2 linked regions of the Homo sapiens genome follow. The protein of the gene in region 2 purifies or fractionates together with the protein of the main gene of each other region. This does not show direct contact. Each region holds a gene or a part of one and is shown on either strand. Other genes may lie near its edges. The genes, in order: MSRB2 and GNPNAT1.

The links.
Region 1: the proteins of GNPNAT1 (region 2) and MSRB2 purify together in Homo sapiens (affinity purification with mass spectrometry; one large-scale study listed by BioGRID and IntAct). This does not show direct contact.

Annotation. Positions count from the first base shown.
Region 1 is NC_000010.11:23,105,353-23,109,167, reverse strand, and holds part of MSRB2 (methionine-R-sulfoxide reductase B2, mitochondrial precursor), read right to left. Parts: intron 1-3,815. UniProt on the Homo sapiens protein: Methionine-sulfoxide reductase that specifically reduces methionine (R)-sulfoxide back to methionine.
Region 2 is NC_000014.9:52,789,359-52,793,273, forward strand, and holds the start of GNPNAT1 (glucosamine 6-phosphate N-acetyltransferase), read right to left. Parts: upstream 2,250-3,915; 5' UTR 2,070-2,249; exon of another isoform or gene 1,600-2,069; intron 1-1,599.

The sequences.
Region 1 (3,815 bases), on a different chromosome or scaffold from region 2:
AAGATCCGCTATCACAGGGCCTGGCGGCAGGCACTGTCCCCTCCTATGGGCCAGAGGAAAGCCAGAGCACAGAACAGCTCACCAAGTGACAAAGCTGACTCAGGAAATCTTCAGATCCCTCCAGGCTTCCCAACTCAAAAAATTCACAGTTTAAACATCCAAATTCCCTGTGGTAGTATTAACAGCACATTTGCAGTGAGCTGTATAAAAGACAATTTCAAATTAACCTACTGAGCCTACCATCTGGGTACACTTGGATGTTTTCCTTCTTTAAAACCCTAAACTTAGCTGCAGAAATCCAAACAGTAGTGAGCTGGTCCTTTATGGCCGGTCCCCTCAAATGCCTGCTTCCAACACTGGCACTAGTTAGCAGCTGTGAAGAAGAGGAAGTTGGCCAGGTGTGGTGGCTCATGCCTGTAATCCCAGCACTTTGGGGGGCCGAGACAGGTGGATTACCTGAAGTCAGGAGTTCAAGACCAGCCTGGCCAACATGATGAAACCCCATCTCTACTAAAAATGCAAAAAAATGCCAGGCATGGTGGAGCACGCCTGTAATCCCAGCTATTCAGGAGGCTGAGGCAGAAGAATTGCTTGAACCTGGGAGGCAGAGGTTGCAGTGAGCCGAGATTGTGCCACTGCACTCCAGCCTGGGCGACAGAGCCAGACTCCATCTCAAAAAAAAAAAAAAAAAAGAGGAAGTTTCCCATCCTTCCCACCTGGGCTGAAGATGAATGCATGCAAAACAGGACTGCCAGTCCTAAGGCTGATCTAGAAAAGCCTTTTCATAGGATCCAGACAGCCTGGAAAGACTCAAAACATAATTTCATTATTGCAGGGGGGCAGCTGGACAGAGGAAGTGATAGATAACTGCTATCACAGTAAGCAAAATAAAAATTAAAACATCAGTGAAGGCCAGGTGCGGTGGCTCATGCCTGTAATCCCAGCACTTTGGGAGGCCAAGGCGGGTGGATCACCTGAGGTCAGGAATTCAAGACCAGCCTGGCCAACATGGTGAAACCCCATCTCTACTAAAAATCAAAATATTAGCCGGGTGTAGTGGCAGGCACCTGTAATCCCAGCTACTCGGGAGGCTGAGGCAGAATCGCTTGAACCCAGGAGGTAGAGGTTGCAGTGGGTCAAGATTGCACCATTGCACTCTAGCCTGGGCAACAAGAGCAAAACCCCATCTCAAGAAAAAAAAAAAAAAAATCAATGAAAAGGAATACTCAGCCAACATAGTTTCTGAAATGACATCTACCCACTCTCTCCTTGCCTAGCTTCCTGATGTTTCCCTCCCTCTCCAATTTTATACAAGTCCTGTAACTTATTTAGGGTTAAACTCAGCTTCTATCTCATTTCTAGTATTGACATGATAATCTAATATAAACCCAGGCTGAGCTGGGTGCTAGTGTTGCAGAGGTGGGCAGCAAAACAGTTTCTGCACTCAAAGAATTTGCTCCCTAAGTGGGAGGAAGACACACGTGAGCTGACAATTTATACCATGTGGTGACAGCTATGATAGAGATGGCATGGAGTTCGGGTAGCGCTGTACCCTTCACTACGAAGGGGGGAGTTTCCACAAAGGCTGACTGTATCAGATATTATCTGAGATGGGAGGAAGTCTTTTTATTTCTTAACCTTTTATTATTATTCTAAATTGCACAACTGATGGTTGTTTATTATAGAAAAATGCCAACACTAAGCTGACTTTTGAAGAGTAAGAGTTAATTGAATGAGGAAATGGAAGAGTATTTCTGGCAGGCAGAATACCTTGGTCAAGGCCCACATGAAAGAAGAGGGCAAAGAGGAGGATGGAGAGAGATGATGCCGGAAGGCAGGTGAGACCAGGCCAGATGGGGTTGGTTAGATCACGACAAACAGCTTAAACTGTGTCCTACTGGAAATTTGAAGCTACTGGAAACTTGTGAACTGGGTGTACGCCTGATTGGAGTTGGTTTTTAGAAAGATCGCTTGACATTCAGGTAAAGAATGAGCTGGAATGGGGCAAGATGCCACCAGAGGCAGAGGGCAATCCGACCTCCATCACACATGCAGGCCTGGAGTGTGCTCCTGCTCAGGCAGAGCAGTGGAAATAAAAGAAAGAGAAGAGATTCAAGAATACTTAGAAGAGAGAATTGAAATGCCTGGCTGCACAGGGAGGGGCCAGGGTCAGAGAGAGAATGATGTTCAAGATTCCCCTGGGATTGCAAGGTCTGCTGGACCAATGGCAGTTCACCATTCCATCTTGTCAATACAACGCACCTGCTGGAAACAGATGACACACTCAAGAGGGATGACTGCAGATAACCTCACACAGGACTGTTTACAAAGGTGCAGACGGGGCCAATGGAAATCCACAAGTGAGGGCAACGCATCCCTGGGCTAATGACTCTGAGAAGCCATGGCCTCCACTAGGCCTGTGGGACAAAGGAAGAGGGAGTGGCCAGAACCTGGTGAGGCTGCACCTGCAGGGGAGGGCTGCCTACAAGAGGGGCCACCTGCAGTACAGGAACACAGCCACTGCCATCCTGCAGCCCCACAGAGAGAACGCTGGGCTCTAGCGATTTCTCCATCCCACCTTTTGATCTCACTGTTGTCTCCCACTGGCTAAACTGAATCAATAGCTGGGGGAAAGGGAGCTGCTCACTCTTCCTAGAGCTCAGAGCAGGGGAGCCCGCGGAGAGTGGATCTGGAGAGTAGACAGAGAATGACCTGCACAAAACCTCCCTTCTATTGATACTTGACTTTCAGTTATTGCTCAGCCATCCTGTAAATTTATTCGTTGGTCTAGCAGAGTGCTAGCACATTACCGTTGCCCAAGAAAAAACATGCGGGAGGGAATTTTAATTTAGAGTCACCAAAGAGAAGCCTTCGATGTTTTATTTCTCTTCTCTTAGGTGAACAAAGCTAATGAAGGCTTACATTTCTGCAATACTCTAAAAAGTTAAACGTGGAAATGGATCCATGGAAAGGGATTTATAACATTAGTTAAAATAATGAATGATGCTCATTTTGTCAAATGGCCAAATGCAGAGAGTATATTGCACCATCTGTTTGAGAAGCCCACAGATTTATTTTCCTAAACATCTGGCAGCTCATCTCTAGGGTCTGTCTATGTACCAAGCCCTGCCTGGCTCTGTACCTGAGAATTAGGGTTGGCTTAGAATACTCTGGGAATACATACAACTGCTCACAGAGTATCATGTGGTTCCCTTGTGCAGTCTACACAAATGGCTAATGTAGTCTCTTTCCCAACAAGGGCTTTAGTAAAATCCCGCCTACAGGAAGTTTTCAAAAATACCAGCATTTCAGGGGACTTTATTGGAATGTGCTGGCCCTTCTGATGACTTTAGCATTGGAAAAACTGAGGGTGAGACCATGATTACAATGGCAGTGCATGTGGGTAGTGACATGAGTTTTGCAGGTGCTGACAAAGGAAAAAACATTCATACTCTACTATGTTTGAAGCCACAGGGCTGGGGTCCACTCTGTGGGATCTGCTTCACTAGTAAAAATATCTAATAACAAAGTTCAATTCAAAAAAGCTACATTCCAGTAGCTATATTTGGGTCTAAGACAGACCACTTGTTAAGCAACGCGGCACTATGTTCTCATTTATATGTGAGAGCTAAAGAATTTGAACACATGGAGGTAGAGAGTGGAAAAATGGATAACAGAGCCTGGAAAGGGGGTTTCCTACCCTGGAAAGCAGGGGGTAGGGGGAGGATGAAGAGGAGTGGCTTAAAGTCCACAAACATACAGTAAGAGAAAAGGAATACACTCAGTGTTTGATGGCAGAGTAGGAGGATGACACT
Region 2 (3,915 bases):
TGTACAAGGGTTAAAAATTAAGTCATAAGCAGCACTTAGAACCTACATTTGGAAAATGGGAATCAGACTAGTCAAAATACATTAAACAAAGCATTACAGATTGAAATAAGAATCTATTAACCAGGCAATCAGAAATTAACATCAAAAATTTTTTTATGAGCTATTCTACAAAACAGAGCCATACTGAAGGCCCACTTTAGCTCACTCTGTCCTCAAACCGTAAAATTCTGCTGGTGCCCAACTAAGGTACTGGGCAAAGTGAAGCAAGATATGACTTGAAACCTGGTTCCAAGGGGGTTTAGAACATAATTAAATAAGTAATTTTATATAAATAATCTTTTAGCATCTTCAGGTGCCCAGATATTGCAAAACTAGGAAATTTCTGCGAATAAAATTGCACAGTTGTGTGAAGCGGAATCTCATCATATCATTAGGTTCTTTAAAGTTTTTAGATGAACTTTAAACACTAATCCTCCTTAAGTATTCCTCAGAACCTTTTCTGATTAACTGCTAAATTAGCAGGCGTTTAGAAGACCCGTTTAAGCCTAACCCTAGCCCAATAATGCCTAGTGAATGAATAACGAATAAGACTTACCTGTAGGTCACATTTCAGAAAATCCAGAAGGACAAAAAAAAAAAAAAAAAAAAAAATTCCCAAACTGCCACAATATCGCGGAAAGCATACACCAAATTCATTTTTACTAGTCATCACATCAGTTGAATATTTTTTCACTCAATTGAATATTTTTTAAACAAAACTTCAACTATTTGGCGTCTGAGCCTCTGTATCAGGTTGGAATACGAATGGGGAGAGAGGCTGCTGCTAGAAGCAACCAACGGAGAGCAACAAGTAATAGACACCGGAGATGAAGATTTTAAAAGTCGATCTACAAATTTTAAAAAATACAATCTAAGGCCAAATCTAAACCAGCCTATGTATTTCTCAAGAGCTCCTGGGGAACCTTCTAAGTACAGGTGAATGGGGGAGGGGCGGACTTCGGATTCCTTTATATTCATTTTATAACAATTTCGATAACAAGAATCCATTCTGAATCTATTCCGTTAAAGATTTTTAACACACCTGGCCATATTTATTAAATTGTGTAACTGCATGAATGTTCAAAAGTATTTTCTGATAGTTTGACCTTTACAATCTAGGCGTTATTCCCAGTCTACCGATGAGGAAGCTGGAGCACCTGGAACTCCCAAGACTTGCCCCTTAGGTAACACAGCAAGTAAGTGACTTGGGGCTAGAATCCTCGTTTTCGCATCTTGAGCTCGATTACCATCCTCAACAGACCCCAATCTTTACATCATCATACCATACAGCTAGCGCTCTCTCCCCTATTTAGCAAATCCTGCCTAAATTAATTTCTTAAGATCCATTCTAGGATTCGTTCATGAGGGATTATCCTAACAAAACGAATCCTATAATCGCCCGTTCAATTTTGTATGAAAATTTTAAATTAGTTTGGCTTACATAAACATCAGCTCCCGCAACAGAAATCACAGTACAGTACTCGGTATTTCTAGGGGTAGGAGCCTAGGAAAAAGAGACAAAGAATGTCCCTCTGTACCCTGGGGAAAGCGCCGACCTACTCGGTGCGGAGGTGGTCTTCGGAGCAGCTGCCTCAATGGCTCCGACCACCGTGGGATGCGCCCGGGAATGGGAGAAGAGAAGGGGCCTGGGACGTTCGTGCCCATTCAAAACCGATGGCTGCAGAGAGCGCGACCAACTGTCTCATTTCCCACGCCAAAGTCTGGGGAGCGAAGTTCCGACCCCAGTCCCAGTTCCAGCCCTGCCAGGCCAAGACCAGCGTATGGCCGGACCGCTGGCCATCATCCTTAACCTCTGCTCCAGGCGCGCGTGCGTTCAACTTCCTGGGAACCGCGCTCCACACCATGTGCACCCAGCTGGCGAGGATTAACGCCCAGCTCCTCCACACAACACCCCCGGGGGCCTGGCCGGGGCACCAGACACACCTGTTAGATAAACCTGAGGGCAGGCCCGCCCCAGCCCCCAGGACACACGGTCCTGCTCTCGCGCCCCGGCCCCGGTCCCTCCTCACCCGTAGAGGCCCTGCGGTCGGCGCTCCTAGCCAGGCGCGTCGGACTCTCCCCCACCAGTGTGCACAGCACCGGATCCGGATCCGGCTTCAGCGCCAGCCCCACCTCCTCCTCCACCGCCCGCGCCACAGTTGGGAACCGCGGCCCAGACGTGGCAGCGCCAACGCCTCCACCTCGCCTCTGCCCCCTCACGCAGGGCCGCGCGCAGGCGAGCGGAGGCGGAGGCCAAGGCGCCACCCGCCCAGGCCCGGAGAGCGAGGGGCGGGGCCCGGAGAGCGGGGGCGGGACCAGGAGGGCGAGGGGCGGGGCTCGGAGAGCGGGGGCGGGACCAGGAGGGCGAGGGGCGGGGCCTGAGGCTCGAGTCGCGGCGCCTGGGGCGGTGGCCGCCGGACCAAAGCTGGCCTCTCCCGGCTCCTCCTCCTCGCTCCCCAAGGCCTTTCCCACCGCGTCATTGTCTCGGTTTATCTGCAGATACGTCTACCTAGCAGTCAGCCCAGCAGCGTAAGTGGTGACCAGTGTGGGCCTCTTTGATCCTGAGACCGAAGGCTCGGCCACTGGCCCTCTCCATTTGTTCCTTGTTGCCCTCCCTTCATGATTCAATCCATTAATTAGGACTTTTCCTACCAGCTGGCAGTTCAGAGCTCCGCATCCCCAGGCCTCTGAGTCACAGTTCCTGCCTTCATGAAACTAGGAGTTGGGGCCACTGCATTCTACTCCTTCGGGACTATTGTTTCATTTCTCAGTCCCTCAAACCCTTTATTGGATGAACATGGGGTTAGGACAGCGGTTCTCCACTGCAACAGTTTTGCCTCCCAGGAGACATTTGGCAATGTATGAATCATTTTCAGCCTCTCATCTGGGGTGAGATGTCATTGGAATCTACAGATGGTGGAGGGCACAGGTGAGTAGAGGCCGGGAATACTGCTTCACGCCTTACAGTGCGCAGGACAGCGCCGCACAACAAAGAATTACCTGGCCTGAAATGTCTGGAGTGCTGAGGTTTAGAAACCTTTCGTTAGGAGAAGAAAAGTGACTTTTTTCAGAGCCCCATTTCTGAAGTGTCTTACCTAAGTAGCACTTTGTCCCTATTTTAACAGATGAGGAAACAGAGGTTCAGAGATGTTACATAATTTACAAAAGTCTCATAGCTAGTAGCTCCCCTTCCTTGCCTTGTACCATAATTTTCAATTTATTGAAATCGCAAAGTATTTTATTCTTAAGCAATAGTATTCAAAGAACCCCATAGATCATATACCAGAAATCATATTTTTTGCTCATTTGTGAGATTTAAATTTCAGTTAACTCCTTTACTGATTTATGCTTTCTCAGAACTTCAAACATCAGTGAGTTGATGGCATCCATATCTCTGTTTTTATCTCTGTTTTTACACCCATACATACAAAAGAATATATAGGGCATGAGCAGAATGTGGTGGTATGCATCCGTAGTCCCAGCTACTCCAGAGGCTGAGGCAGGAGGATCACTTGAGCCCACAAGGTTGAATCCAGCCTGGACAATAGAGCAAGACCCTGTCTCTAAAAAAAAAAAAAAAAAAAAAAAGAATATGTAAGGCATAAATAAAATAAACACTCATGGCTGGGCGTAGTGGCTCACACCTGTAATTCCAACATTTTGGGAGGCCTAAGCAAGTGGATCTCTTGAGCCCAGGAGTTTGAGACCAGTCTGTGCAACATGGTAAAAACCTGTCTCTACAAAAAAAAATACTGAAAATTAGGCAGGCATGGTGGCATGTGCCTGTAGTCCCATCTACTCAGGAGGCTGAGGTAGGAGGATAACCTGAGCCCGGGAGGCAGAGGCTGCTGTGAGCCATGATTGCAAGACTGCACT